Regions from separate parts of the Homo sapiens genome. Here region 1 is linked to region 2. Evidence: fine-mapped expression QTL. Tissue or cell type: whole blood. Region 2 holds a variant in brackets; the other region holds the start of a gene. Each region is shown on its reference strand, or each on the opposite one.

What was found. PIP is the estimated chance that this variant, and not a neighbour inherited with it, causes the effect.
Region 1: RGL4 starts here. The variant in region 2 is fine-mapped to the expression of RGL4 in whole blood (TOPMed, PIP 0.99).

Annotation. Positions count from the first base shown.
Region 1 is chr22:23,681,254-23,696,476 of GRCh38, reverse strand. It overlaps RGL4 (ral guanine nucleotide dissociation stimulator like 4), which reads right to left and starts at 5,464. Exons shown (of 11, transcript NM_153615.2): 1 at 4,268-5,464; 2 at 3,949-4,142; 3 at 3,486-3,808; 4 at 2,503-2,718; 5 at 2,027-2,130; 6 at 1,458-1,527. The coding sequence starts at 4,446. It also overlaps the pseudogene GUSBP11. RefSeq lists an enhancer at 557-1,057 and a silencer at 11,021-11,315.
Region 2 is chr6:143,913,338-143,928,560 of GRCh38, reverse strand. The region is part of intron 6 of ZC2HC1B (zinc finger C2HC-type containing 1B); the gene reads right to left. Among named protein-coding and RNA genes, the nearest start is that of ZC2HC1B, 56 kb to the right of the region's middle. The variant C/T (reference allele first, on the strand shown) is at 6,413.

The sequences.
Region 1 (15,223 bases), not on the chromosome of region 2:
CTCCCTGTGTGTGTCACCCAGTCTTGCAGCCGGGCCTCCCTGAGACTGTTTCCTCTTCTGTAAAGAGTGATGCAAACCACAGCTACCTCACAGGGCCTCTGAGGGCTCAGTTTCCTGTAGCTGTTGCCGTTGTTCTCACCGTCATCCCTCTGAGGAAGAACCAGGCACGAGCACCCTCAAATTGCTTTCTTTTCTTGAACTTCATTTCTACCCTGTGAGGCCTGCACTACAGGCTCAGCATCCCTTCATTTTCCAGATGAGGAAACAGAGGCCCAGAGCGGGCAGTGGCTCCCCAGGGCCCCCAAAGAGAGGACGCCTCCTTCTGCTCCTGGAGGCTCCGTCTCGGCTGCCTTCAGCTCACATCCCAGCACCACCACCCATCAGGGTCGTGTTCTCTGGAGTCTTTGAGTGTCTAGGTCTCCAGCCACATACAGTCGTGATGGGAAAGGGACAGGGCATTTTAGGAGACCTGGTTAAGTGGCACCTGCCTATCCCAGCCCCACTGGAATCTCTGCCACGCAAACTGGGTTTGAGCCATGCCAAAGGCTTCGCCTCGCCAATGATCCCCCAGGGGAGTTCCGTGCACGGAACTCTCTCTTTCTCCACTGAGGAAGTAGCCTCCTGATGCGCCATCTCTGACTGCAATGGCAGGGTTTTCCAGAGTCCTGGGTGGGGTGACATGTTGCCTTCTCATTTGCATGGACGATTCTGAGATCTGGTCAGGGAGGATCCCCTAGCAATGTATGAATCCCCCAGATACTTGTCATGAGCATGCGTCGCTGCTAACCGGTGAGAATCCTCTGACATGACCGTTTTTGGGTGTCTGCAAAGGGCAGAGTGGGGAGTCCCAGCAAACAGCTACGTCTGTCCCCAGTATGCCCATTGGTACCCAAAGCTGGGCAGTTACTGGACTCCCTGCCACATGAGCTTCCTCTGTTGTTGTTCCCCCTCTCCCCCAGTGCAGGCCAAGGCCCCCTGCCCATGGAGGTGTGCTGCAGACAGCAGCAGCAGCAGCAGCAGCAGCAGCAGCAGCAGCAGAGGCCTGGCTTCCTGAGGAATTGCTGGCCGGTTTGAGGAAGGAAGGAAGTCCCACCTACCATGATCACCCTCCAGCCTGGAGGAAGCTCCATGCCAGCAGCATGGACCAGCATGGGAGCCAGAGCCCTGCTAATGCTGCAGCTCATCACCCCTGCTCAGCAGCCCAGCAGCCCAGCAGCCATTGCCACATCCCATTTCCAGGGCCTCCTGCCCCCATGCCCCCACGTGCCCATGGACCGACACACCACTCTTCCTGTTGGCCCAAGGTAGGCATGGAGGGAATTTTTCAAGTCCACTTTTAGTAGGTAAGTCAAAACCAAACAAAATAACCACTCGACACCTGGTCCAATGCCCTTCCAAACTCACTCTTTTCTCTGACCCTTAAACACTTGTCCTGCATCTCCCAGACTCCACTGTACCTTGATCAGTAGGTCCCTCTTCACTGCAGTGTCTTTTTTGCAGAGTTCTTTTAGCTCTTTCATGCTTTTGCTATGGGCAGAGGAAAGAAAGAAGGGTAAATTTGGGAATCAGGGGAGATTTGTGAGTTCCAGTCCCTTTTGTTTGAAAACCCAGTGAATCCCAGCTTACTGGGTGAGAGTTTTCAGTGGAGTCCTCTGATCACAGGGGCTCCAGAGGACCAGGGTGGGACCTCTCATGCTCCTCCCCTGGGCCCCATCTCCACTTCACATGAGCCACTGCGTGTTTACAGTTAGCTTTCAGCTGGACACAGAGTTCCACTGCTGGGTACAAACACCTGAAAGCCTCCAGTTGGCTCCAGTCTGTTCCTGATGGTTAAAAAACCTTAGTCCTGAGTTGGAAATCCTTGCCTAGGAGTCCAGGGCAGCTTAGTGACCACAGCCACCGGCCCATCCCTGCCTCCAGTGTCCCTGGACTCCAAGAACCTTTCAGAGTCATTGAGGGCACATGGGGGGAGACCTGTGAGTCCCTAGGTCAACCCTGATGCTGCCATGGAGAGAGCCCTCCTCACCTGGACACTCCTGCCCACGTCTTGTGTAGCTGACCTATTGGGTTGCTGCACAGAGCAGAGACGATGACGTGCACCGAGGAGAAGTTGTTGAGGCTTAGGCACTCCTGGAGAGGGAAGAATGAGCTGTGCGGTTCAGAGTTGGAGCTTGGCCCACTACAGCCTCAGCCCCCTCTGCTGAGATCTCCCCTCCTGGATGAAGCAGAGGCCTGGGGAGCCTCAGGAGGGCAGACCTGGGGCCGAGTGGATGTCACTCATCTAGGAGGATTTTAGTTCAACCCAAGGAAGACCCCAGGTCGGAAGTGAGCAGCCACCACTGGGCCGTGGGAGTCAAGGTGAGTGAAGCTCTGGCAAGAAGAGCCTAGGGGATGTGCAGGGTCCAGGCCAGAGATACAGATGCCGATCCTGAAAGCCGATGGAGGAGAAGAGGAAGTTCCCCATTTTTAAAGAGGGAATCCCCAGGCCCAACCATAGCTTACCCTGGCCACCTTGATCCAGTGCTCCACCACCCTGGCCCTGTCCCGGGCCCTCATGCTGTGGTCCCCGAGGCAGGAGGTGGTGATGCAGTTGGTGAGCCTGTTGAAGTGTGCGATGGTGGCACGAACTGTGGGTGCCATGTGCTCATTCCCCTTCAGATGTCCTTGGCCCCAGATGCAGCCCAAGCATTCGTGGAGCACCACCTTCTTGAACAGCTCCTTTGGGGGAGGAGGAGAGTGTCACGGACACAGCACACTGCAGCTCAGAGTCACCCACAGTCCCAGGCAGGGACTGAGCTCACAGTCATCCACGGTCTCTGGCAGGAACCAAGCTGGAGCTCAGAAAGCTTTAAAATGGGCTCCAGACTTGTGGGAGTCCCTGGGTTTGGTTTTCTGCCCCCGAGGGACCTGAATGCATCATGGCCTAGAACCCAACAAGGGTGGGAAGAGAGAGTGACATTTTCTCCCAGGCCATCCACACTCTAAGAACTAGAAGGTGGCTCAGGCCTGCCCATCCTGAGGCCTCGTCTTCCTCCCATCCCAATCAGCCCTCTACTACTCCTCTCCGTACCGGTGCACTTTCCTTGTGGCAGCTGCAACTATGGGCTCTGTTTGGGTGTCTACCATAGAATCCAGTATGCATCAGGTACCTAATAAGTGCTGAGGGTAGTGAGGCTCCTGAGCAGCTGGGTGAGTGACCCATGGCCCTGCCTGCCCCACAGTGAGCACCTGCCCTGCCCTGCTTTCTGTCCATCTCCTGTCACTCAGTCTGCACAGTCACTCTGTGCAGCTGGCGCTGGTGATGTCCCATCTCTGCCGTCCACATGCAGACAGGGAAGGCTTGTGGGTGAGGAAACTCATCCAGATCCCACGGTTGGTAAGAAGTGGGGCTGAAATTGGACCGAGGGCATTGGCTGCTCCTCAGGGAGAGGCTGGTCTGAGACAGCTGGTGCCAGAGACACAGCCTGCAAAGCTCAGCTGCTCACCGCATCCATGAGGGTCAGCTGCTCTGCCAGCAGCCTGGGAGGGAAGGTCGTCATGTCAGGCAGCTCCTCACTGGGTTGGTTCTTTACAGACCCACGACAGGGACAGGAGGACTCTGGGGCTGACTGTGGCTCCAGCACTGTCCCTGGAGGGGGCCCTTCCCCTGGTGCTGGTGCTGGCCCTGGTGCTGAATGTAGATATCCTGGTGGACCCAGGGCTGCAGGTGACTCTGGCTCCAGAGCAGGCCCCAGGTCCGCCAGCAGTGGTGGTGCTGGCTCCAGGGCCGGCATTGTTAATGCGTGTTGCCCAGGACGTGGAGCAGGATCTGGAAAAGGAGAAAAGGTCACCACACCAGTCATTTTTCACTGGGTTTTCCAAGCACAGAAATGACCGGGTGGAATTTAAGGGAATTGTAGCCCCAAAACACCACCCCCGGAAAGTCTTGCAGACTGCAAGCCCCCTCACCATCTGGCTTGGCCTCGTTGGGCTCCGGAAGCACCAACTGGCCTAGGACAATTTCCTGATGGTCCTCCAAGCCCAGTCCAGGCCAGGAGAGGTTCCTGAAGGCCAGCTTTATCCGGAAAGATGACCGTTGCGGGGGCTGATAGTAAACTGAAGTGTTTTCGGGGGGCCAGTTGAACAAAATGGAGGTGATGGTGCTGGTGATGGAGTAGACAGCTGAGTCAGAGGCCTGGCCTTCTCCCACACAACCCTCCAGGGCACCCCTGCGTGGTTCTGGGTCCCTGGCCTGTTGCTGCCAGTGTGGAGGACAGCCCCACCCTACCGTAAGCCATCAGTGCTGTCCTGGAAGGGGCAGACCTGGCCATACAGCAGGGCTGTACAGACCCTCGTGCGCCCTGGCGTCCCACAGACATTCTCTTCCCAAAGGCCCTGGAGCACAGCACTGTACACCTGGGCACTCAAGACTGCAGCTGCAGGCAGATTTGTGAGCAGCTTCCTCATCAAAGCTCCAGATCTGGGTCCCCTGGTCCTGGGGTTAGGAGGGAAGGGGCAGATGTCGGGGGGAGGAGGACAGGGAGAGCTGGGAAGCCACGGTGCTGAGGGGGATGGGTCTCTCAGTGGCCAGCTGTGACCCCAGCCTCCCCTCTGCTTTGCAGGGGACCTAAGTCTCCATTTACAGAACTCACTATTTGCCTCTTGTGGGGGAAGTCCCCAGATGTCAGCCTTCTCGTGGGAATTATAAGAAGTATGAGCCCCAGAGCTCCTTTAGTCTCTCCCCAGCCAGAGTCCACATATTTTCCCCCATGTTTTGTGGGTGAAAAGGCCCTTCAGAACCCTAAATCCACCCAGTTTATATTTGTTGCTGGGCTGCGTCATTCTAGTCAGAATCTGGGAGGATGCCACCATACGTAGAGGAGGCCATGAGGGTCTCACCTGTAACATTCTGTAGATATGACTTGTTTATTCTGTCTACTGTGAGTGCCTGACTCTGAGTAGAATCAAGGCCGGGGGATTGTCATCTGCTTTGTTTATGAAATTATGCCAAGCCCCAAGAAGAGCGATGCACAAATGAGGTGTTTTGAATGTATGTGTTGAATGAGTGAACCCCAACCTTTGGAGAACCCCAGTGAGCCTCTCCAGATGTCTGAGTGGGCCTGTGGCTCCTTTTTCAGCACCAAGGGACCCCTCTTCTGTCTGTGTCAAGGAGAAAGACCAGCCAGAAGGAATCTCAGACATCCTTTACCAGTGCCATCGCAGACTTGGTTTCTATGTGTTTTTCCAAACAGTGAGTGATACAGGCCATTGAGGCAGAATGCTGAGAGCTGCTTCAAGTGAGGGGGAAGAGAAAAGTAACAAACATGAATCACAGCACCCCCAGCAGATTTTCCAGAGTTTTAGGCTCTAGGGACCCCTTTGTTTGCTGTGTCTTAGATCATTGAGTCCCTACAAGAACCCTGTGAGGTTCGTCTTCTCACTACTCCCTGTTCCAGAGGAGCCAACCGAGGCTCCGAGAGGTGCATCTTCAAGACAGAGCCAGTAGGGGACAGAGGCACCTCTGTGTCTTGGAGGGGGATGGACACTCACCTTCTAACCAGTAGTTCCAAAAAGTGTGGCACAGTGATAAAGTCCCAGGAGGGGCCCAGGCAGGTGGCATAGGAGGAGATGGGTTTAGTTAGAAAGGCTGGAACCAGGGACTCCCAACAGCTTCTCCCCAGTGCCGGGCTGGAAAGTTAGCATCCTGCAGATCTCATTTTCATACTAGGGGGACAAGGAGGGACATGGGAGTCAGTGGTAACACCATGGACCACCAGAGGATCGGGATCTGGAACTCACACCAAGAAGCACCAACCCTTCAGGGACTTGTGCATATGGAGAACCTGGGTGCCCATGGTGAAAAGCGTTCTAGGCTTTCAAAGTAACATTGCATGTGAGGATGGAGAATGATAAAACGATTCCTGCCTTCAAGGCATCGTCCCGGTGTTTGTCAGCTGTGGGGCAACAGCACCCTCTGTGTCAGCAACCTGCATGAAGAGCATCATCCCTGCAAGTCCTCAAGGCCTGGGGAGGCCTCATCCCCTCCTCATTTCAGCAACAGCACACAGGACAATACGCTCTAGAAGAACTCTTTGACTTAAAGGTATATGATTGTTTTTGTTCCTTTAACATGAACGTGAGTCTGGAGAAACAGCTACGGCCATCCCAGCCCTGGCCAAGGGGAAAATGCCGGAAGACTCCAGGGTGGGAGGAAGCGCGTCCCAAGGCCCAGGATCTGCGAGGCGACTTGGGGAAAACGCAGGCAGGTATTGAACCCGTGAAAGGTTACGCAAATGTATGTTTGAAAGTGGAAATGAAACAAGGATTTTCTCTGCCACACAGACAGCAGGTTGGCGAAAAGTTAAAAGCGTGTTAGTATTCAGGGGAGGCTGCGTTCAGAGAAGCAGCTACCTTCAGAGGCTGCTGGTGACCGTGTGACCAGCTGGAGCCCTTTTGGAAAGTCAACTAGCTAGAGCTGTTGAAAGTTGATATCTGCATATCCTTTCACCCAGATATCCCTTTCCTGGGTGTCTGTCTGCTGCAGGGGATTTGTTTATTTTATGGGTTGAATTGTGTCCCCTTCCCCAAATGTAACTGTTTCTATTCTCAACCCCAGAGACTCAGAATGTGACTGTGTCTGGACACAGAGTACTCCAAGAGGTAATTCAGGTGAAGTGAGTTCATTAGGGTGGCCCCTAATTTAACATGCCTGGGGTTCTTACAAGGAGAGGGGGTCAGCGCACAGAGAAGTTCAAGAGAAGACCCTGTGCTGACTGAGATAGAAGTCCGCCATCTCCAAGGCAAGGAGAGAGGCCCAGAGAAACCACCCCAGGCTGACAGTTTGACGTTGGACTTCCAGTCTCCAGAATTGTGAGGAACCAGATTTCTGTGGTTAAGCCCTTCAGTCAGGGTGCCGTGTTATGGCAGCCCTGGCAAACTGCTCCAGCCTATTAGGACACGCATAGGATTATGCTCCTTGTAGAAAGGCTGCCTCGAAAGGGAATTTTATCATGACAGGCTCCACCAGCACTGAGAGGCTGACCCGCTGTGGAAAATGGCCTCCCTTAAGGAATGTTACAATGACATGCGAGGGTACAACTCCTGCCTGATGGGGCTGCAGGGATGAGTTCTGTGAGATGACACTTTAAAGACTAATGCATAGAGTCGCTTCACCTTCTTTTGTTGTAATCAATGCACCCCCCCCACCCCCACCCCTTGTTTGTGCAAAAGTGTTGGATTTTAAGTCCTGGAGGAGGTCTGGCAGGGCAGCGGAGCTGCCTGCCTGTTGCCGGAGATCCACTTAGGGTGGGGAGTTAAAATGATAACAGTGTGAGTATTTTGCTGCAATGTTACCATTGTACTCAATTCTTAAAGCAACATGCCGAGATACTCCTGGCATAGCCTAAAGTGAAAACAGAAGGATTTTCTCTGGTCTTCCTCTGATAGGTGAAAGGGACTTTGCCTGTAACCAAGTTGCCACTGGGGACTAATGGCAGCCAGATTCCTTTGGGAGAGGACAGTGGGTCACTCAAGTGGGAACGCCCTAGGATGGAGCTTAGGGAGTCCCCATATTCGTGTCTGAGTCCTGGGCCCACCTTGGTTTTCACAAGTCCTGTCTGTGGAGACCCTTCTGTGCCCAATCTCACCGCAGACCGGCACTGGACGTGGTTGGTGGTGTGGTGCACGTGCCCTTTGAAGAATATGGAGAAATTGAATCCATCCAACAGCTCTTGTTTGGTCTGTTGTGTGGAGCTCTGCAAAGAGAGTGCCCGAGAGCCGGGCCAAGAGGTGTCAGTGGCCTGTCTGGCTGACCCCACAGTGGGACACCCCCATTAGAACTCATCCCTGGCACCCCCTTCCCCAACAGGATTTGGCACATAGGAGCATCTGCATAGACCTCCAGCCAGAGAAGCCTGAGGTCTCCGGCAGATGACAGCTTGAGGACTTGGGATTCAGATCTGAGCAGACAAACTGTGTCCTTGACACTCACCTTCCCATCCTGCCAGGCACTGCCTGGGCTGTGAACCTGACATACCTACCAGGCTCCAAACACCTGACAACCTACCTGCTCCTATCCAGGGAGGGCCCCTCATCTCCTGTTTCCCCCAAACAAGTGGGGAGGGGCCTGAGGCTGCCCTGATGGGCACAGCTGAGGCCTAGCCTGGATGGGCCTGCCCTGGGCCCTGTGTTACCTGTGGGTGCCTTCTGGCAAAGGGCCAGAGGCGTCGAGGGTGAGGGTTGAACCAATGTCTATATTCTCGGGAAAGACTCTCATTTTGGCCTCTTGTGCGACGAGGAGGTCGGCAGCATGTCGGGATACAGCAGGAGAACATGTTGTTCTCTCGAGCATCGCCTACGAAGTGAGCTGGAAATGGGGCTGTCTCTAGAATGTGGGTGCCTAGTTACCAGAATTGTAAGTTCTGTTGGGGGTCTGTCGGCAAGGAAGTGAGGTCACATCTTGTAGGTTCCATCCTGTAAGCTCCTCCTTTCCATAAGTCCTACTCAAAGGCCCCTCTGGGCTTCTGACCGCTCACCCTCCCCCGTCAACTCCTTACGTAGTCACCATTATGAAAAAGTGTGCCCCTTCAGCACCTTGGGAAGACCTGGATATAACCAGGGTCCCAGGTTTGAGGAGACAGTGCTGGGTCAAACAGCCTTTATTTTAGCAGTTGTGAGACCCTAGAGAACTCCTTTGGTGTTTTGGGGTCTCCCCAGCATGCACAATGGGGGTTATGCTAGCATCTCTTTCCTAGGGAACTCATGAGGTTATGTTTGAGATAAATATTTAAAAACTCATGGTGTGGTGTTCCCTGTGGATATTGCACACACTTAGAAATGGAACAAATACAAGAAGGGGTGAGAGGTAACGTCTAATGCAACTCCAGTGGGCCTGGGGTCCACAGTGTGATCTCGGGAAAAGACACTTTTGCTCTGGGCCTCATCTTTCATGCTGCACCAGTAGAGGTTGAGATTAAATGAAATTCAGACATCCTCCTCCTATGACATTGCACCTTCCAGTGCCTTCCCATTTTATTTAGACCCAGACCCTGTGCCTCATCTCAGCCTAGGGTGGGCAGCGTCCACAGAGACAGCACTGAGGGGTTAGTGACTCCCTTCTGAATGATGGAATATGACACAGATGATGGAATAGCACTTCTGGGCTAGTTCAGGCTGTTACAGCAAAGAAAGAGCTGTAACGGCCTGGGGAGCTCATCAAAAACAGAACTGTATTTCTCCCTGTTCTGGAGGCTGGAAGTTGGATATCAGAGTAGCAGCGTGGTCGGGCTTAGTGGTGACACTGCCGCCCCATTCATTGAGCTTTTATAGGTGCTGTCCTTTCCTTGGAGGACGCCTCAACTTTAGGAGCATGGGTAGACCTCCATTCAAAGCCCAGCTCCCCCTTGTAGCTTGGTGATCGTGAGGAAGTCATAGAACATCCCTGTGCCTGTTTTCTCCTCTGAGAAATGGCGTTAGTGAGAATTGTTTCCCTTTTTAATCACAGAAAATAAAGCATGCGAAGAAGTTAACTTGGTGCCATTGGGCAGAGGGTGAGAGCCCAGCAAACCGGAGAGATCAGCTGCCCACATCAGTGGCGAGGAGTGCGGAGAGTGGGTGAGGCTGGGGCAGGAAGCAGGCCAGCCTGCCAGAGCCCAGGAACAGGTGAAAGGCAAGAGTGAGCTCCTCACCCTGAATTCTCAGGGTTCACAGGCATGCAGGGGCTGTGGGGAGTACAATCATCAGGGCTGCTCTCGTTCCCCTGGTTCCCTCCATATCTGACGTGGTCCCAGGGCCCCTCTCCCTGTGTTTCCTCTCTGCCCTACTTTCTTTCTGGCTGCCCTCCCAGGACTCATTTTTGGCCCTGGTAAGGTGGAGTCTTGAGGTAACTATAGGCCTATTAATAACTCCTCTGATGTTCAACCTGCCATTTGTTGAGACCTCTGAGCTTAGTCAGAAATCTGCTCCTGCTGGGACCTGAGAGAGGGCTGGAGGGAGCTGACAGTGCAATGGCAGTTTTCCCTGGGGCAGCCACTCCAGGGTCTATTGGCAGGTATCTGCCGAACTGGAGCTTTCTTTTGGGTGTCTGGTGTTCTGAGGTGTGATTTTCCCTCTGAAGATAGGCTGAGCCCCAGGTGGGTGCCTTAGCCTCAGAAATGGGTCCCCCTGAGCTGGGAGCTGTGCTCTACCCTCAGTGTCCTAGGACACCTCACACCTGGCCCTGCCCATTCTGGCTTCCGAAGCCCACAGAGAGGGTCTGTAGAAATTGCTAGATACAAAAGGACTACAAATAAGTCATAGGAAGTGTATTTACATAACGCAGTGGTTTTCAGCCATTACTATATGTTTACTTCAGCAAAGGCAAAATTTAAGAATGTTAATACCCTGTGTCACCCTGCAGAGATTTGGATTTATTTGATGGGGCAGGAGACAGGCATCTTTGGTTTTGTTTTGTTTTGTTTGTTTCTTTTTTGAAAGCGGGACTTTGCAGTGTTGCCCAGGCCATAGTGCAGTGGCATGATCATGGGCACTGCACCCTTGATCTCCCAGGCTCAAGGAATCCTCCCTTCTCTGCCTCTCAAGTAGCTGGGACTATGGGCATGCACCACCATGCCATGCTAATTTTTGTGTTTTTTGTAGAGGTGGGGTCTCACTGTTCCACCCAGGCTGGTCTTAAAAGTCCTAGCCTCAAGCTGTCCTCCTGCCTCAGCCTCCCACAATGCTGAGTTGACAGATGTGAGCCACCATGTCTGGCCTGTTCCTTTGAAGAGCTCCCTTAGTGTTTCTAATGGGCATCCAAGCAAAGAAGATTTTGCTGGCAGAAGGCTCGTGGAACCCTACTGAGGCCGCATCTTCTTCACAGCCAGCAGATCATTCCCTGAAGTATCTGCTTAGCAGTGCACAGGCTATTTATATCCTGGGCTTTGGGTAGCTGTTGGGTTTGGGGACTGGCTGGCGCATGAGTATTGGCTCTGGGATCTGTCACAGCCTGGTCTTGTGGGACACCCAGTCTAGGATCCTCCTTCCCAGACCACCATTGTTCCTCTCACTGCCCCTATGGCAGGAGACCAAAGCCATGACCCCATGGTCAAAGGCATCCATGTGCAGGACTGAAGTTGAGTGACTCATGTGGGGAGGGGCGGGGCACAGCTGCTTGCTGGAAGGGTGTTGGGAAGTATTGGTCCATCAGCTGTCATGTCCACCTTTTCCTGCTGAATCCCAGCGATCCTCAGTGGTCTGAGAAGGGTGTGACACCTGGGTTCTTGGCTGGCTGAGCTGGTGCTTTTGCAGCCTCTTTGGGGCTCTTGTATGTGAGGTCTCACCTGAGTTGCTTCAGGAAACCTTTGACCCTCAGGCTACCTCCTGCTTAAGAGCAGAGCCTTTGTGTGGAGATCTGGCTGGCCTCTCTAGCATCCAGCCTGTCCTGTCCTGTTATGTCTCGGTTTGAGGTTGTGCTGAGGGGTCTCTTCCCATAGAGGAGGCAAGGCCAGTCGTGTGGGTCAGAGTGAAGCATGGCGATCCCAGCTGGCTGTGCCCGGCCTTTGACTGGAGGAGTCTGAGAATGACCAAGTCTGGGGAGCTGCCCTTCCTGGGAAACAGCATGTCTCCTCCCCTATTGTGGAGTTTCTGGATGTGATCCAGAGTGTGCTGGGCCTCTGTAGCATGTGCTGGGTGTAGCTGTGTGATTCAGGGTGGGAGGTGCAGGGGATCATCTGCTCTGAGCCAGATAAGGCCTGGACAGGACTGGCGGGCAGCCCTCGAAGCCAGGTTTGATGGGAGAGTAGGCACGGGTAGGGAGGGGACAGGGTCACCGGGGCTGTGTGTCACCTGTTCTTGCTGCTTTGTCTGCCCTGGGAGTGAGAACAGAGGTGGGCTGCTGTGGACCCACTTTGGCTTCCTGCAAGCAGGTGTTCATGTGGGGAGCAAGGCGGTTGGGTGGGGGACAAAGCTGGTCTCTGAGGTGTTGAGTGGTTCTTTGTCTGTCATTGTCCTTTTTCTCTCTGCCTTCCCCAACAGCTCTGCTGTAGCAGCCCATTGACCAAGTAGGTCACTCAGAGCATCCTGGTCCTACACATAAGCGTTAAGGCCCCTGAAGGGCCAGAGAAGGCTTAGGAGTTTCTCAAGAGTGAGCCCAGGGTGGGAGGGGGCCAGAGTCACTGAGAACAGCCCATTTGAAAAGTCAGGCAGAGGGATCCTGAGCCCTGAATATGCCTGCCTGGCCTGCGGTAACCATGCCAGCAGGGTCAGGGCATTTGGCCAATTGCTGTCTTGGTCGAGGCAGGAACATCTTGCTTCCCCAGCCCCTGTCTTTTTGTCTCCAGTATCCTTGGAGCAGCTGCAGGGTGGGTAGTGGGGTGTCTCTCCCAGCTGCTTGAAGAGATGAGCCTCCACCCGGCTGCCTCTGCCAGGGGAAACGAGTAATGACTGCAGCAGGGAGAAAAGCGAGCCCAGCCCCTTTTAGAATCAACCCTGCTGCTCCGATTCTAATTTTCAGTTCAGATTTTGCAGGCACGAGTGTGGGTCCCTGAGTACCTGCCCTTTGAATTCTTTTGGTGAGGACTGAGCATTCCCCCAGGAGCTTCTCATCGAACCCCAAAAACACGGCCCCCAATTCACCACCTCATCCCTTCCCAGGACCTGCTGAAGCTCACACCCGTGGACCACCCAGACTGCCTGCCGCTACAGGATGCCCTCCGCATCTCCCAGGACTTCTTTCCGGCATCAGTGTGGACATTGACCCCACTGGACTGCAGTCACAGTGGACTCCCAAGGGGCAGGTGAGCTCATGGCACAGCAAGGCCTCACGCTCAGGTTGAGGAGCCCAGAGTGGACCAGATCCCCAGTCCCTTCTCTGATGGCACAGGCATCTCTCTGTGCCCCTTGTCTCTGCAACCCTGATTCCCCATTCCCAGCCAAGGAGAGGTCTTCGATCCCTGGTCATGCTGATTTGATTCCCTGTGGCATTGTGGGCCCTAGGCTGAGAGCTTTAAGCCCAGTCTCTCAATAATCCTAAGAATCCAGTGAGCCAGAAGAGGGCACAGGACCAGAGAGTCTCTCCAGGTACGCCACACAGTCTTTGAGCTGTGTCAGAGCTGGATTGTTTACCTGGGGCTGGCTGTTTGGAGGCCCCAGGCATTGTCCCCCACACCAGGGAAGTTGGCCTGTGGGTAACTCGTTCTTGAATGCAGACACCTGCCTATGCCATCAGGGTGACCCAGGAGGGTGAGGGAGCAGGACATCTCAGCCACTTTAGATTGACTTGCATGAGCAAGAGCCAGGAAGGGAGCCCCACAGAGGGAAAGGCTGGTATTAGAGGTGGCCAAGGCCATCCAGGTTGCTGGAACATTCCACATGGGCTCCTGGATGTCAAACAGCAGTTTCCCTGGGGGCCCTTCTTGGTGGAAGGGTGGGGGTTAGTCCAGTGAGGAGAAACAACACTCAGCATGAGAGGCACAATTAACCCCTGTGGGTCGGCAGCCTGGCCCAGATCAAAGGCTTCCTGACCGATAGAGGTTGTTATGTGGCCCTGAGGAGTGAAGACTGCCTGGGTTCATGCTGCTTTGTTACATTTGTGAGTGAGGGGCAGGTCTGGAGAGTGTCTGATGGCGCATAAGGAGCTGTTTCTGTGCAGTTGTTGGTTCTGGTTTGCAAAACCATGGGATATCACTAGTTTGGTTTACTCTGGGGATATCTGAAAAATCTCTGGAAGACTTAGAGTAGCATCAGTTGTAGGTCATCTTAACTGTACGGTTTCAATGCACGCACCTACATCTCGCAGTGTACACAGGTCACACGGTGTGTCATAGAGACAGGAAAGACTGGGACAGATGGTTGCAGCCCCATGGAAGCCCCCCTGACTCTGAGGGTGGCTGAGGGGAAACTCTGGAAATCCTCATGGAGTAGAAACCATCCAGAGCCCAGGTGAGAGGTGGCTGCAGGTCCCCCCAGGACACTTCTGCAGCCCCAACCGAAGGCAGCCCGGGGTCTCCCATCCCCTGGGTATATTTGTTAAAAATGTGTCCATCATATATGAATTTGGGTTTGGTATTTGGTTCCCTCGTTGTGTCTTGTTCTGTATTTTTGTGTTAATGTCAATACCGTATTGTTTGGACCACTATAGCTCTTCTATGTCATTTGTAATCAGGGAGCATAATACATCCATGTACTTTGTATTTCCCAGTGATGAGATTGCTAGATGACATAGTAATTGTATTTTTAGTTTGAGGAGGAACTGCCAACTATTGCTCATAGTGTGTACGCCCATTTACATTCCCACCAGTAGTGTCTAAGAGTTTCCCTCTCTGTAAATTTACACTTGTGATTGCGTTTTAAAAATTCTGTTTTTGCTTTTGGCAACATTCATTTTATGTGGATGGGGACGCTGTCTTAGTGTGATTTGATTTAAATTTTTGTGATGATTAGTGATGTGGGCAAGCTTTTTTTTTTTACCTGTTCATTTCCTGCCTTCTTTTCAGAAATGTCTATCAGTTCTTTGCCCAAGTTTTGTTGGATTAGTTGGTTTTGTGTATTTTCCTACCTTATGTTAGTTTCTGGTATATGTCAGATGAACACCTTCAGCTCCATGATTCCTTATACTTACCGCCTCACAGCATCCTGTGCTCATTCTGTCTCTTCCGCTCAATGACCACTGCCTGTGTCCCATTCTTCTCCCTCCCCAGGGCAGGGCCCAGACCTCCTGCCTCCCATGGAAGCCTGGCCCAATGCGGGGCCAGCCACATGGCACAGTGTCCAGGGCCTTTCTGAGTGGTGGACAGGCCAGTTGGCATGGAAAATGGTGTCTGGGGTTTCTGAGTTGACTGTTGAATGCAGACTCAACCCACTCACAACCAGTCACCACCACTGCCACCCAAGCAAGCCACCTGGGAGCCTGGAAATTGCTCTGCCCACCTCTTGCCATGGGCACAGACACATACCATAGGGAGGACTGCCAACAGACCCAGCCCACCTGCCCCTGGTCCCCAAGGATGACATTCAGGGGCCTGGGGATCACCCCAGCCCACCAACCACAACCTGTGTCCATGCAGGCTCCCACAGGGCCTAAGGACAGGCTGACCCCTCCCAGAGAACCCCCACCCCACAAGTACCCAAGTACTTCACCCAGGGACCTGGGTATAGACCTGCCCTGCCTTCCACTTCTGGCATGTGCTTGCACCAGCAGGGGGCCTAACAACAGGCCAGACCACCTGATGCCAGCATCAGGTCCCATGCCATCGTGGGACCTGGGGAT
Region 2 (15,223 bases):
AGCAAAAGCAGGCATCACATTACCTAACTCCACATTATACTATAAGTCTATAGTAATCAAACAGCATGGTACTGGTATAAACATAGACATATAGATCAACAGAACAGAATAGAAGACCCAGAAATAAAGCCACATACCTATAGCCAACTGATATTCGACAAAGTTGACAAAAACATACATCAGAGAAAGGACACCCTACTCAATAAACGGTGCTGGGAAAATTGTATAGCCACATGCAAAAGAATGAACTGGATTTATCTGTCATCATATACAAAAATTAAGATGAGTTAAAGACTGAAATGTATGATGCGAAAACTAAAAATTCTACAAGAAAACCTAGGAACAACTCTTCTGGACATTGGCCTACACAAAGAATTCAAGACTAAGATTTCAAAGCTAATGCACCAATTACAAATATAGACAAATGGGACTTAATTAAACAAATGCTTCTGTAGAGTAAAAGAAATAGACAGACAAGAACAGACAACCTGCAGAATGGGAGAAAATATTTGCAAACTGTGCATCTGACAAGGGACTAATATCTGGAATCTACAAGGAATTCAAACAAGTCAACAACAACAAAAAGCATTAGGAAGTGAGCAAAGAACATAGACATTTTTCAAAAGTAAACATAAAAATGCCCAAAAAGCATATGAAAAAATATTCAACATCACTAATCATCAGAGAAATGCAAATTTAAACCATGAGGTGCCATCTTATACCAGTCAGAATGGCTACTGTTAAAAAGTCAAAAAATAACAGATGTTGGCAAAGATGCAGAGAAAAGGGAACACTTATAAATGTTGGTAGAAATGTAAATTAGACAACTTCTATGGAAAACAGTATAGAGATTTCTCAAAGAATTAAAAATAGAACTACCCTTTGATCCAGCAATCCAACTACTGGGCATATACTCAAAGGAAAAGAATCATTTTATCAAAAAGATACATGCACTCATGTTTATCACAGCACTAGTCATGACAGATACCGAATCAACCTAAATAACCATCAATGGATGATTGGATAAAGAAAATGTGGTAAATATATATATGGAATACTATGTATCCATGAAAAAAATAATATAATGTCTTTTGCAGCTACATGTATGGATTTGGAGGCCATTATCTCAAGTAAAATAACAAAAACAGAAAGCAAAATACTGCATGTTCTCACTTCTAAATGAAAGATAAATAGTATGCACACATGGACATACAGATTGGAATAACAGGTATTAGAGACTTGGAAAGGTGGGAAGGTGGGAGGCGGGTAAGGGATGAAAAATTACCTAATGGGTACAATAAACACTATTCAGGTGATGGTTACACTAAAAGCCCAGACCTCAACACTACGCAATATACCCATGTAACAAAGCTGTATTTGTACCCCCTAAATCTATTATAAATAAATAAACAAGGTCACCATATAATGATAAAGGGATTCGTTCGGTAAGAAGATACAATTCGGGCCGGGCGCGGTGGCTCACGCCTGTAATCCCAGCACTTTGGGAGGCCGAGGCGGGTGGATCATGAGGTCAGGAGATCGAGACCATCCTGGCTAACAAGGTGAAACCCCGTCTCTACTAAAAATACAAAAAATTAGCCGGGCGCCTGTAGTCCCAGCTACTCGGGAGGCTGAGGCAGGAGAATGGCGTGAACCCGGGAAGCGGAGCTTGCAGCGGCCTGGGCGACAGAGCGAGACTCCGTCTCAAAAAAAAAAAAAAAAAAAAAAAAAAGAAGATACAATTCTAAATATATATGAACTTAACACCAGAACATCCAGTTATATATAGCAAATATTATTAGATCTGAAGGGAGAGATAGACTCCAATACAATAATAGTTGAAGACTTCAACACCCTACTCTCTATATTAGACAGATCGTCAAGACAGAAAATCATCAAAGGAACATTAGATTTAAATTGCACTTCAGATCAACGTACCTAAAAGACATGCATGGAATATTTTATCCAATAGCAACAGAATATACATTCTTCTCATCAACACATGGAACATTCTCTAGTATAGACCATATGCTAGGCCACGAAGCAAGTCTAAATTTAAAAAAAAAATCAAAATCATATCAAATACCTTTCAGATCACAATAGGATAAAACTAGAAATCAATAACAACAGGAACTTTGGAAACTATACAAATACATGGAAATTAAATAACATGCTTAACAGCCATTGGGTCAATGAAGAAGACAGAAGGAAATAAACGTCTTGAGACAAATGAGAATGGAAACACAACATATCAAAACCCATGGGATGTAGCAAAAGAAGTGCTAAGAGGGAATTTCATAGCAATAAATGCGTATATCAAGAAGTAGAAACATTTCAAATAATCAAGCTAAGGATGCCCCCTCAATAACTAGAAAAGCAAGAGCAGACCAAATCCAAAATTAGCGGAAGGAAAGAAACAATAAAGATCAGAGCAGAACTAAATGTAATAGAGACTTTAAAAAAAAATACAAAGGTCAATGGAATGAAAAGTTAGTTTTTTGAAAAGATAAACAAAATTGATAAATCACTAGCTAGACTAACCAAGAAAATAAGAGAGAGGATGTGAATTAGCAAAATCACAAACAAAAAGGGAGACATTACAACTGATACCACAGAAATACAAGAAATCATCAGAGACTTATAAAGAACTATATGCTAACAAATTAGAAAAGCTAGAGGAAATGGATAAATTCCTGGACACATACAATCTACTAAGAATAAATCAGGGCTGGGCACCGTGGCTCATGCCTGTAATCCCAGCACTTTGGGAGGCCAAGGTGGGCTTCCTGAGGTCAGGAGTTCGAGACCAGCCTGACCAACATGGAGAAACCCCATCTCTACTAAAAATACAAAAAAATTAGCCTGGTGTGATGGCGCATGCCTATAATCCCAGCTACTCGGGAGACTGAGGCAGGAGAATTGCTTGAGCACGGGAGGCGGAGGTTGCGGCGAGACGAGATCGCGCCACTACACTTCAGCCTGGGCAACAAGAGCGAAACTCCGTCTCAAAAAAAAAAAAAAAAAGAAAAGAAAAGAATGAATAAGGAAGAAAGAGAAAACCTGAATAGACCAATAACAAGTAATGGGCTGGGAGCAGTGGCTCACACCTGTAATCTCAGCACTTTGGGAGGCCGTAGGCAGGCGGATCACGAAGTCAGGAGATCGAGACCATCCTGGCTAACAAAGTGAAACCCCGTCTCTACTAAAAATACAAAAAATTAGCCAGGCATGGTGGCGGGTGCCTATACTCCCAGCTGCTCGGGAGGCTGACGCAGGAGAATGGCGTGAACCCGGGAGGCGGAGCTTGCAGTGAGGGGAGATCGCACCACTGCACTCCAGCCTGGGCGACAGAGTGAGACTCTGTCTCAAAAAAAAAAAAAAAAAAAAAAAAAAAAGGAATGAGATTGAATCAGTAATAAAAAGTCTCCCAACAAAGAAAAGCTCAGCACCGGATGTCTTTACTTCCAAATGCTATCAAACTTGTAAAGAAAAACTAACACATATTCTTCTCAAACTATTTCAGAAAATTCAAAGGAGGAAATTCTTCCTTACTCATTCTGTGAGGCCAGTATTACCCTGATACCAAAACCAGACAAGGACATAATGGAAATAGAAAACTACAGGCCAATACCCCTGATGAACACAGACACAAAAAAGCTTCAACAAAATACTAGCAAAGTGAATCCAACAGCACCATAAAAGGATAATACATCAGATGAAAGGATGGTTCCACCCATGCAAGTCAATAAATGTGATACCTCACAACAACAGAATGAAAGACAAAAACAATATGATCATTTCAAGAGACAGAGAAAAGGAATTTTATAAAATTCAACTTCTTTTCATGATTAAAACTCTTAACAAATTAGGCATAGAAGAAACATGCCTCAGCATAGTAAAGGTCATATCTGACAAATGCATAGCTAACATAATACTGAGTGGGGAGAAGCTGAAAGACCTGTAACAAGACATTGGATACCCAGTTCCACCACTTCATTTTTATTATTTATTTAGAGATAGGGTCATCACTTTTATTCAACATAGTACTGGAAGTCCTTGCCAGAGCAATCAGGCAAGAGAAATAAATAAATGTCATCTAAATTGGAATAGAGGAAGTCAAACTGTCCCTCTTTGTAGATAACATGGATATATGTGTGTGTGTGTATTATATATACATGGATATATATATGTAATACATATATATATATATAAAACCTAAAGACTCCACCAAAAACACTCCTAGAATAAATGAATTTAGTAAAATTGCAGGATACAAAATCAACATATAAAAATCAGCAGCATTTCTATGTGCCAATAATAAACTGGCTAAAAAAGAAAACAATCTCATTTACAATAGCTACAAAAAATAAAATACTTAGGAATAAATTAAACCAAGAAAGTGAAAGACGCTTACGAGGAAAACTTCAAAACACTGATGAAAGAATGTTAAGAGGACACAAACAAATGGAAAGATATCCCATGCTCATGACTCAGAAGAATTACTATTGTTAAAATGACCATACTACCCAAAGCAATCTACAGATTCAATGTAATCCCTATCAAAACACCAATGACATTCTTTATATAAATACAAAAAAATCCTAAAATTTGTATAGAACCATTAAAGAGCTCAAATAGCCATAGTGTTCCTGAGTAAAAAAAAACAAAGCTGGAGGCATCACATACCTGATTTCAAAATATATTAAAAAGCTGTAGTAACTAAAACAGCAAGATATTGGTATAAAAACAGACACATAAACCAATGAAACAGAATAGACACTCCAGGAATACATGCATGTATTTACAGCTAACTGATTTTCAACAAAGCCATTAAGAATATAAATTGGGGAAAGGCATCCTCTTCAATAATGGTACAGGGAAAACTGGATATCCAAGTACAGAAAAATGAAACTAGATCCCTATGTCTCACAATATACAAAAATCAACCCAAAATTGATGAAAGACTTAAACATAAGACCCAAAACTATGAAACTACTAGAAGAAAATAGGGAAAATGCTCTCAGACATTGGTCTAGGCAAAAAATTTGTGGCCATGACTTCAAAAGCACAGGCAACAAAAATAAAATAAACAAATGGGACTATATAAACTAAAAAGCTTCTATGCAGCAAAGGAAGCAATCAACAGAGTGAGAAGGACAACATGCTAAATAGGAGAAAATATTTGCAAACCATTCATCTCCCAAGGAACTAATATTCAGAATAAGCAAGGAACTCAAACAACTTTTTGTGTTTTTTATCTAACACAACACATATACCTGAGGAATTCAAACAACTTAACAGCAAAAAAACTAATAATCCCATGAAAAAGTGGGCAAAGGATCTGAGTAGGCATTTCTCAAAAGAAGACATACCTCTCTCACCCCTGGTTACAGGGAAAAAAAAAAGGACTTAAAAATGGACAACAGGTATATGGAAAAAATGTTCAACATAATTAATTATCAGGGAAATGCCAATCCAAGACGCAATGAGACAAAATCTTACCCTTGTTAGAATGGCTCTTATCAAAAAGGCAAGAAATAACAGATGCTTGTGAGGATGCGGAGAAAAGGGAACTCTATATTATACACTGTTGGTTGGAAAGTAAATTAGTACAGCCCTTGCAGAAGACAGAATGAAGTTTCCTCAACAAACTAACAATACAACTAACACAAAATCTAGTAATCTCACTCTTGGGTATTTATTCAAAGGAAAGGAAATCAGTATATCAAAGGGATACCCATATCCTCTTGTTTATGGCAGGACTATTCACAATAGCAACATATGAAATCAATCTAAATGTTCATTAATGGATGAATGAATAAAACATGTGAATAAAATTTGAAAAAAAGAAAATGTGGTATATATACTCAGTGGAATACTATTCAGCCACAAAAAAAGAATGATATCCTGTCATTTGCAGCAATGTGTATGGAACTAGAGGTCATTATTGTTAAATGAATTAAGCCAGACACAGAAAGACAAATATCACATGTTCTCATTCATATGTGGGAGCTAAAAAAGTTGATTTCAGTGATGTAGGGAATAGAATGATAGTTACTAGAGGACGGGAAGGGTATGTGTGTGGCAGGGTGCTGGTGGAGAGGTTGGTTAGTAGGTACGAAATACAGTTAGATAGAAAGAATAAGTTCTAGTGTTTGATAGCACAGTAGGGTGACTGCAGTTAACAACAATATATTCCATATTTCAGAATAACTGGAAAAGAAGATTTGAAATGTTCCCAAGTCAAATAAATAATAAATGTTTGAGGTCATAGATATCTTAAATACCCTGATTTGATCATTACACATTTTATTCATGTATCAAAATACCACATGTATTCCATAAACATGTACAAATATTATATATCAACAAAAAGACCACATATTACAAGTAGACTAGTATCAGAACAGAA[C/T]GAAGGAAATCTCACTAAGTGAGATTCTAACTAATGCATGGGCTTGTTTGTATCAACGAAAGGCATTTGGTACTTTTCTCCAAGTCCTTAAACACTTTAGAGATTCACCTTCACCCAGTATGCTTCTAATTCCTCCCCAGAATGGCTCCAAATTATATGTGACTAATTTAAAGACACATTAACCCTAGCAACTTTATTTTTATTTTTTTTAAGAGAAAAGGACTTACTTTGTCACCCAGACTGGTGTGCAGTGGCACGATCATAGCTCATTGCAGCCTTGAACACTTGTACTGGACTCAAGCAATCCTCCCACCTCAGTCTCCTGGGTAGCAAGAGCTACAAGTGGGTGCCACCACATGTAGCAAATTTTTAAATTTTTCTTGTAGAGACAGGGTCTTGCTATGTTGCCCAGGCTGGTCTTGAACTTCTGGCATCCAGTGATCCTCTGACTTTGGCCTCCCAAAGCACCGGGATTATAAATGTGAGCCACCACACCCAGCCAGCAATTATATTTTTTTACTTAAGCAAGTAGAGAGTAAGAAATTAAATTTAAAAAGCATCTTGAGCTTGAAATAAAACAAAGCTATCTCTTAAAGCTAATTAACATGATAATTCTATTCTATGATAATAATTTGAGTGTGAAATGATAGAATCAAGATTTCCACTTCTCCTCATACATTTCATTCAACAAGTATTTACTGAGTCCCTCTTGTGTGCCACAAACAACTCTAAAAAGTAGGGATATTCCAGTACAATAGAGAAAGATACAGTAGAGAATTCCCCTTTCTTGAAACTTATATTCCATTTCTTTTTGGTACATGAGAGACGAATGAGTTAAATATATATTGAATATTAGATGGTGATAAATGCTATGTGGAAATAATTACAAAGGAATTAGGGAAGGCTTGGTTAGTTTTAAATACAGAGGTTGGAGAAGTCTCACTGAGGCGACACTTTAGCAAAGAACTGAAGGAAGTGAATGAGTGAGCAGTGCAGATTACTGGGAGAGTGTTTTTGTTTTCAGCAGAGGGGGCAGCCAGTACAAAGGTCATGAGACAGGAGTGTGTATGGCTGCTATGGTCAAGGAACAACCTGGGGCCACTTGTAGCTGGAGCAGGATTAAGAAGAAACAGCATTGTATTACATTTGGGATTCGGTTTTTTTCAAAAAAGGAGAAATAGGAGAAGGTGAGCTCAGATGGTATTATGGAAACTAGTGTCAACCTTTTTTTTTTTTTTTTTTGAGACGGAGTCTCTCGCTGTGTTGTCAGGCTGGAGTGCAGTGGCGATCTTGGCTCACTGTAACCTCCGACTCCTGGGTTCAAGCGATTCTCCTGCCTCAGCCTCCCGAGTAGCTGGGATTACAGGCACGTCCCACCACACCTGGCTAATTTTTGTATTTTTAGTAGAGACGGGGTTTCACCATGTTGGCCAGGATGGTCTCGATCTCCTGACTTGTGATCTGCCTGCCTAGGCCTCCCAAAGTACTGGGATTACAGGTGTGAGCCACCACGCCCAGCCGTGTCAACCATTTTAAGAACTTTGCCTTTTACTTAGTGACATCACAGTACTTATAAATCCTCACTAACTAGTCAAGAGCAAACATAATACCATTTTGCTTATATTTACTGATCTACTAGTCTATTTTCTTATGTGTTAGAATGGTATCTTTATAATGTTCTGCTTAACATCACATACTAGGACACAGGACTTTTGATTCCTAATTTGGGACCTTTTCTCTTATGTCTTGTTGCTACTTTAAATAAATCAGTTCAAGGAAGGAAATTCTTTTCTGATTTTCAACACCGTAACTGACATGCTGTCTTTTCCCATTCACGATCTCTTTCCAAGTTTACTAAACAAGAGCTCAATGGTTCTAGACCCTCGTGTTGATTTGTTATCTAATCCTTATAACTTAAGAAATATTCCTTCTTGAGAAATAAAATTTGACCTCAAACTTAAAGGAGTGTTTTTTTCTCCTTTAAGCATTCTCATATGTATTATCTCTGGAAAATAAAAAAAAGAAACCATAATATAAAGAAATTGTTTTTTTATTTTTCTGAAGGACACTAAGCATTGTACTTTAGAAAAAAGCTTATTGGTAAAAGTTTTACCAAATGAATACACATACAATTTAAATTTTTTTTTCTTACTGAAAACTAGTATCTACCTCACTGTTAAGTTTTTCCCAAATGAGGAAAAAACTAATTACTTGTCAGAATTCTGGAAAGATAGAAGAGTAGGAAGCACCAGGAATTTGTCTCCCCTCCTAGATAACAATTGCGCTGGCACAATGTGTCCCATATAACTATTTTGGACTCTGGAGTCTATTGAAGACTTGCAACTTCCAGGGGAAGGCTTGAACAGTAAGATACAGTTAATTTCACCAATTTCAGATCTTAGCACAGCTACACATCCTCCACCCCTCAGCTGTGCTGTGTGGCAGAGCTCTGCACATATTCCTGGATCAATCTGGACATGGCCTGTGGGAGCCATGGTAGGCAAATAAGAACCCAAATAAGAATCTCTAACTATCAGAGATTTATGCTCTGATCACTGATTGTTGTTTCTGATCAAAGAGGTACAAAGAGGCAGGTGGCCATTGTTGTTGTACCTCCCATCATTGTTGTAAGCCCCTTCTGCTCTGGCTGAAGTAACTTCCAGGGGATTTAAAGGGACAGTGCCCTTCTCTCCTTTTATTTTTGTCTTTTCTCCCTTTTGGAAACTAGACATTAAAAACTACAATGTTTTTTTAAAAAACTACATATATGAGGAAATTAGAAGGTGAACATGACACACCCAGAGAAAGGCACAAGCTCAAAAATACTGAGAAGACCTTAAGTTGACACCTAAGACTGATCCTTGGCACAGAGACAGTCACATACACACACACACACACACACACACACACACACACACACACACACACACAGAGAATAGCAAACCCTGCAGAAGGGAGAATATCTAATTTCCACAGTTACATATTATTAGGTCCAAATGTCCAATTTACAACAAAGAAAATGACAAGCCAGACAAAGAAAAAGAAAAGTATAGCACCTTCAAAGAAAAAAAATCAACACAACTGTTCCCAAAAAAAGACCTGATGACAGATCTGCTAAACAGATCTATTAGACAAATACTTTTAAACAACTGAAGATGCTCAGGGAACTAAAAAAAGATGTGAAGAGACTCAAGAAAAAGATCTATGAACAAAATGGAAATATCCACGAAGATAAATCCTGAAAAGAAACCAAATAAAATTCTAGAACTGAAAAATAGAATAAATGAAATGAAAACTTTACTAGTAGGATTCAAGAATACATTTGAACAAACAGAGGAAAGACTCAGCAAACTTAAAGACAGGACAATGGAAATTATCAAGTCTGAGGAACAGAAAGAGAAAAACTTAAGGAAAGGTGAACAGAGCCTTAGGGACCTGTGGGACACTGTCAAACTGACCAACATATGCATTGTGGGAATACCTGAAGGAGCAGAGAGAGAAAAGAGCAGAGAGAAATAATGGCTGAAAACTTGCCAGATTTAACAAAAGACATGACTATAAACATTTAAGAATCATTCAAAAACTAAAAGTAAGACAAACTCAAAGAGACCAACACTGAGACACATTATAATCAAACTTTCAAAAGAAAAAGACAAAAAATAATCAGAGTAGCAAGAAAAAAAATGACCTGTCACAAACCAGGAATGTTCAATAAGATCAGCAGACTTCTCATCAGAAACCATGGAGGATGAAACACAGTGGGCCAACATATTCAAAGTGGTAAAAGAAAAAAACTGTCAACCAAAAATCTCATATACAGAAAAACTGTCCTTCAAAAAGTAAGGGAAGAGATGGGTACAGAGGTGCATGCCTCTAGTCTCAGCTACTCAGGAGGCTGGGGTAGGAGGATTGCTTGAGCCCAGGAGCTTGAGTTCAGCCTGGGCAACAAGTAAGATCCTGTCTCTTACCAAAAAAAGGCGAAGAAGAAATTAAGACATTCCCAGATAAACAAAAGCTGAGGAAGTTCATTATCATGAGACCTGCCCTGCAAGAAATACTCAAGGGAGTCCTGCAAGGTGAAGTGGGAGGATCCTAGACAGAAACTTGAAGCTGTATGAAGAAATCAAAATCTCAATAAAGGTAAATGCATGGACAATTATAAAAGCTAGTACTATTGTAATAATGGTTTGCAACTCCACTTTTTTGTTTTCTACATGATCGAAGAGACTAACACATTTTAAAAAACAATTATTAGTCTAAAAACTAGTACTGTAACTGGTTTGTAACTCCACGTTTTGTTTTATACATAATTTAAGAGACCAAATGTAGGAATTATTAGTTTACTATACAAAGCACAAATTAAGGATCCCTTATCTGAAATGCTTGGGACCAAAGTGTTGCAGATTTTTTTTTAAATTTTGGAATATTTGCATTATACTTACTGGTTGAACATCACTAATCCAAAAATCAATTGCATGTCATGTCAGTGCTCAAAAAGTTTCAGATGTTGGAGCATTTTAGATTTCAGATTTTTAGATTAGGAGCATTCAACCTGTATAAAGATGTAATTTTGTGACATCAATAACAAAATGGGTGGAAAAGACATTGCTGAAGGAGCAGTTATTGTATGTTATGAAGATAAGCTGGAATAAATTCAAATGAGAATGTGATAACATTAGGAAGTTAAATGTAGTCCCCATGGTAACTACTAAGAAAATAGTTATACATACAAAAGGAAATGAGGAAGGAATATAAATGTTTTGCTTCAAAAATCAACTAAAAACAAAAGAAGACGGTAGTATTAGTCTGTTTTCATGCTGCTGATAAAGACATATCCAAGACTGGGCAATTTACAAAAGAAAGAGGTTTATTGGACTTACAGTTCCATGTGGCTGGGAAGGCCTAACAATCACAGTGGAAGGTGAAAGGCACGTCTCACATGGCAGCAGACAAGAGAACAGAGAGCTTGTGCAGGGGAGCTCCTCTTTTTAAAGTCGTCAGATCTCATGAGACTTACTCACTATCACGAGAATAGCACAGGAAAGACTTGCCCCCATGATTCAGTTACCTCCCACTGGGTCCCTCCAAAAACACATGGGAATTCAAGATGATATTTGGGTAGGGACAGAGCCAAACTATATCATTTTGTCCCTGGCCCCTCCCAAATCTCATGTCTTCACATTTCAAAACCAATCATGCCTTCCCAACAGTCCCCCAAAGTCTTAACTCATTTCAGCATTAACGCAAAAGTCCACAATCCAAAGTCTCATCTGAGACAAGGCAAGACCCTTCCACCTATGAGCCTGTAAATCAAAAGCAAATTAGTTACTTCCTAGATACAATGGGGGTACAGGTGCTGGGTAAATACAGCCATTCCAAATGGGAGACATTGGCCAAACAAAGGGGCTATAGGCCCCACACAAATCTGAAACCCAGTGGGGCAGTCAAATCTTGAAGCTCCAAAATAATCTCCTTTGACTCCATATCTCACATCCAGGTCACTCTGATGCAAGAGGTGTACTCCCACAGCCTTGGGTAGCTCCACCCCTGGGGCTTTGTAGGATACAGCCCCTCCTGGCTGCTTTCGTGGGCTGGTGTTGAGTGTCTGCGGCTTTTCCAGGTGCACAGTGCACACTGTCAGTGGATCTACCATTGTGGGGTCTGGAGGACGGCAGCCAGCCCTCTTCTCACAGCTCCACTAGACGGTGCCCCAGTAGGGACTCTGTGTGGGGGCTCTGACCCCACATTTCCCTTCCACACTGCCCTAGCAGAGGTTCTCCATGAGGGCCCCACCCCTGCAGCAAACTTTAGCTTGGGCATCCAGGTGTTTCCATACATCTTCTGAAATCTAGACAGAGGTTCCCAAACCTCAGTTCTTGACTTCTGTGCACCCACAGGCTCAACACCACGTGGAAGCTGCCAAGGCTTGGGGCTTCCACCCTCTGAAGCAACAGCCTGAGCTGTACCTTGGCCCCTTTTAGTCAGGGCTGGAGCAGCTGGGACACAGGGCACCAAGTCCCTAGACTGCACACATCAGATGGATGCTGGGCTTGGCCCACAAAACCATTTTTTCCCCTTAAACCTCGGGCCTATGATGGGAGGTGCTGCCACAAAGGGCTCTGACATGCTGTGGAGACATTTTCCTCATTGTCTTGGGGACTAACATTCAGCTCCTCATTACCTATACAAATTTCTGCAGCCAGTTTGAATTTCTCCCCAGAAAATGGGATTTTCTTTTCTATTGCATTGTCAGGCTGCAACTTTTCCAAACTTTTATGCTCAGTTTCCCTTTTAAAACTGAATGCCTTTAACAGCACCCAAGTCACATATTGAATGCTTTGCTGCTTAGAAATTTATTCTGCCAGATACCCTAAGTCATCTCCCTGAAGTCCAAAGTTCCACACATCTCTATGGCAGGGGCAAAATGCCACCAGTCTCTTTGCTAAAACATAACAAGAGGAACCTTTGATCCAGTTCCCAACAAGTTCCTCATCTCCATCTGAGACCACTTCAGCCTGGATTTCATTGTCCGTATCACTATCAACATTTTGGTCAAAGCCATTCAACAAGTCTCTAGGAAGTTCCAAACTTTCTCACATTTTCCTGCCTTTTTCTGAGGCCTCCAAACTGTTCCAACCTCTGCCTGTTACCCTGTTCCAAAGTCACTTCCACATTTTCAGATATCTTTTCAGCAGCGCCCCACTCTACTGGTACCAATTTACTGTATTCGTCTGTTTTCATGCTGCCGAAAAAGACATACCCAAGGCTGGGCAATTTACAAAAGAAAGAAGTTTATTGGACTTACAGTTCCACATGGCTGGGAAGGCCACACAATCATGGTGGAAGGTGAAAGGCATATCTCACATGGCAGCAAAGAGACCACAGAGATTGTGCAGGGGAACTCCTCTTTTTAAAACCATCAGATCTCGTGAGACTTACTCATTGTCATAAGAATAGCACAGGGAAGACTTGCCCCCATGATTCAATTACTTCCCACTGGGTCCCTCCCACAACACGTGGGAATTCAAGATGAAATTTGGGTGAGGACACAGCCAAATCATATCAACAGTGATGCAGGAAACGAGGAACAAAAAAGCTGTAAGGCATATAGAAAACATATACCAGAATGACAAATGTCTCTCCTTATCAGTAATTACTTGAAATGTAAATCGATTAAACTGTCTAATCAATAGACAGAGATTGGCAGAATGAATAAAACTACATGCTGCCTATAAGATACTCATTTTAGATCCAAAGACAAAAATAGATTGAAATTGAAAGGATGGAAAAAGATATAGCATGCAAATAATAACCAGAGAGAGCAGAGGCCACTAATATTAGTGGCCACACTAATATTAGACAAAATAAACTTTAAGTCAAAAAAGATTACAAGACACAAAGAGGAACCTACTGACAGACCATCAAAATATATGAAGCAAAAATCAACAGAACTAAAGGGAGAAATAGACAGTTCTACAACAATAGTTGGAGACTTCAATACTCCACTCTCAACACCAACCAGATAAAGATACATAAGAAAATAGAAGATTTAATACAATAAACCAACTAGATCTAACAGACTTATTCAGAACACTCTACTCAAAAACAGCAATATATGTTTCTCAAGGGCACATGCAACATTTTCCAGAATGAACCACATGTTAGGCCACAAATTAAGTCTCAGTAAATTTAAAAAGACATATATCATATGAAGTGTCTTCTCCAACCACGGTGAGATAAAGCAGAAATAAAACTATAAAATTCATAAATTTGTGGAAATTAAACAACACACTCTTAAGCAACCAATGTTATCAAGGAAGAAATCACAAGAGAAATTAGAAAATATTTGGAGATGAATGAAGCTCAAGAAAAAACACACTGAAACTTATGGGACTTAGAAACAGCAGTGCTAAGGGGGAATTTACACCTATAAATGCTTACATTAAAAAAACAAAAAAGATCTCAAATCAACAATCCAATTTTGCAAATTAAGGAATGCGAGAAGAACAAATGAAATCAAAAGCTAGTGGAAGAAAGTAGATAATAAAGGTTAGACGGAGAGAAATGAAATCAAGAATAGAAAAATAGAGAAAAATCAATAAAACCAAAAGTTGGTTCTTTGAAAAGAATCAATAAATTGAAAAACCATTGGGAGAGGGGCCAAGATGGCCGATTAGAAGCAGCTGTGGTCCACAGCACTCACAGAAAGGAACAAAACAGGCAAGTGAATACAGCTTTCAACTGAAACATCCAGGTTCTCACACTGGGACTGATTAGGGAAACAACTCAATACACGGAGAATGAAGAAAAGTAGGGTGGCGCAATGGCCCACCAGGAGTGACATGGAGCCAAGGAAACACCCACCCCCAGCCAAGGGAAGCAATTAGTGACTATGTGACCCAGGAAACCATGCTTCTCCCATGAATCTTTGCAACCTGTGGATCAGGAGATCCCCTTGTGAGCCTATGCCACCAGAGCCTTGGATCTGTCACATAGAACTGGGTAGAGTCTTGGCAGAGCAACTGCTCAGGCACACACAGAAACCCAGGAGCTTTAAATACACCAGTCTTTCTGCAACACAGGCAAGGTAGGTGGTCTGCATATATCCCTAGGAAGGGGCAGAATCCAGGGAGCCAAGCAGCATCATTCTGTAGACCCCACTTCCACCACACCTGACAAGATAAGACCCACTGTCTTGGAATTCCAGTAAGCCATCAGCAACAGGGCGGAGCCTGCCTGAGACAGGATGGAGCCTCAAGGGGAGAGTGGTGGGCAACACCTCTGCTGTTTGGTCAATTCAGCTATTCCAGC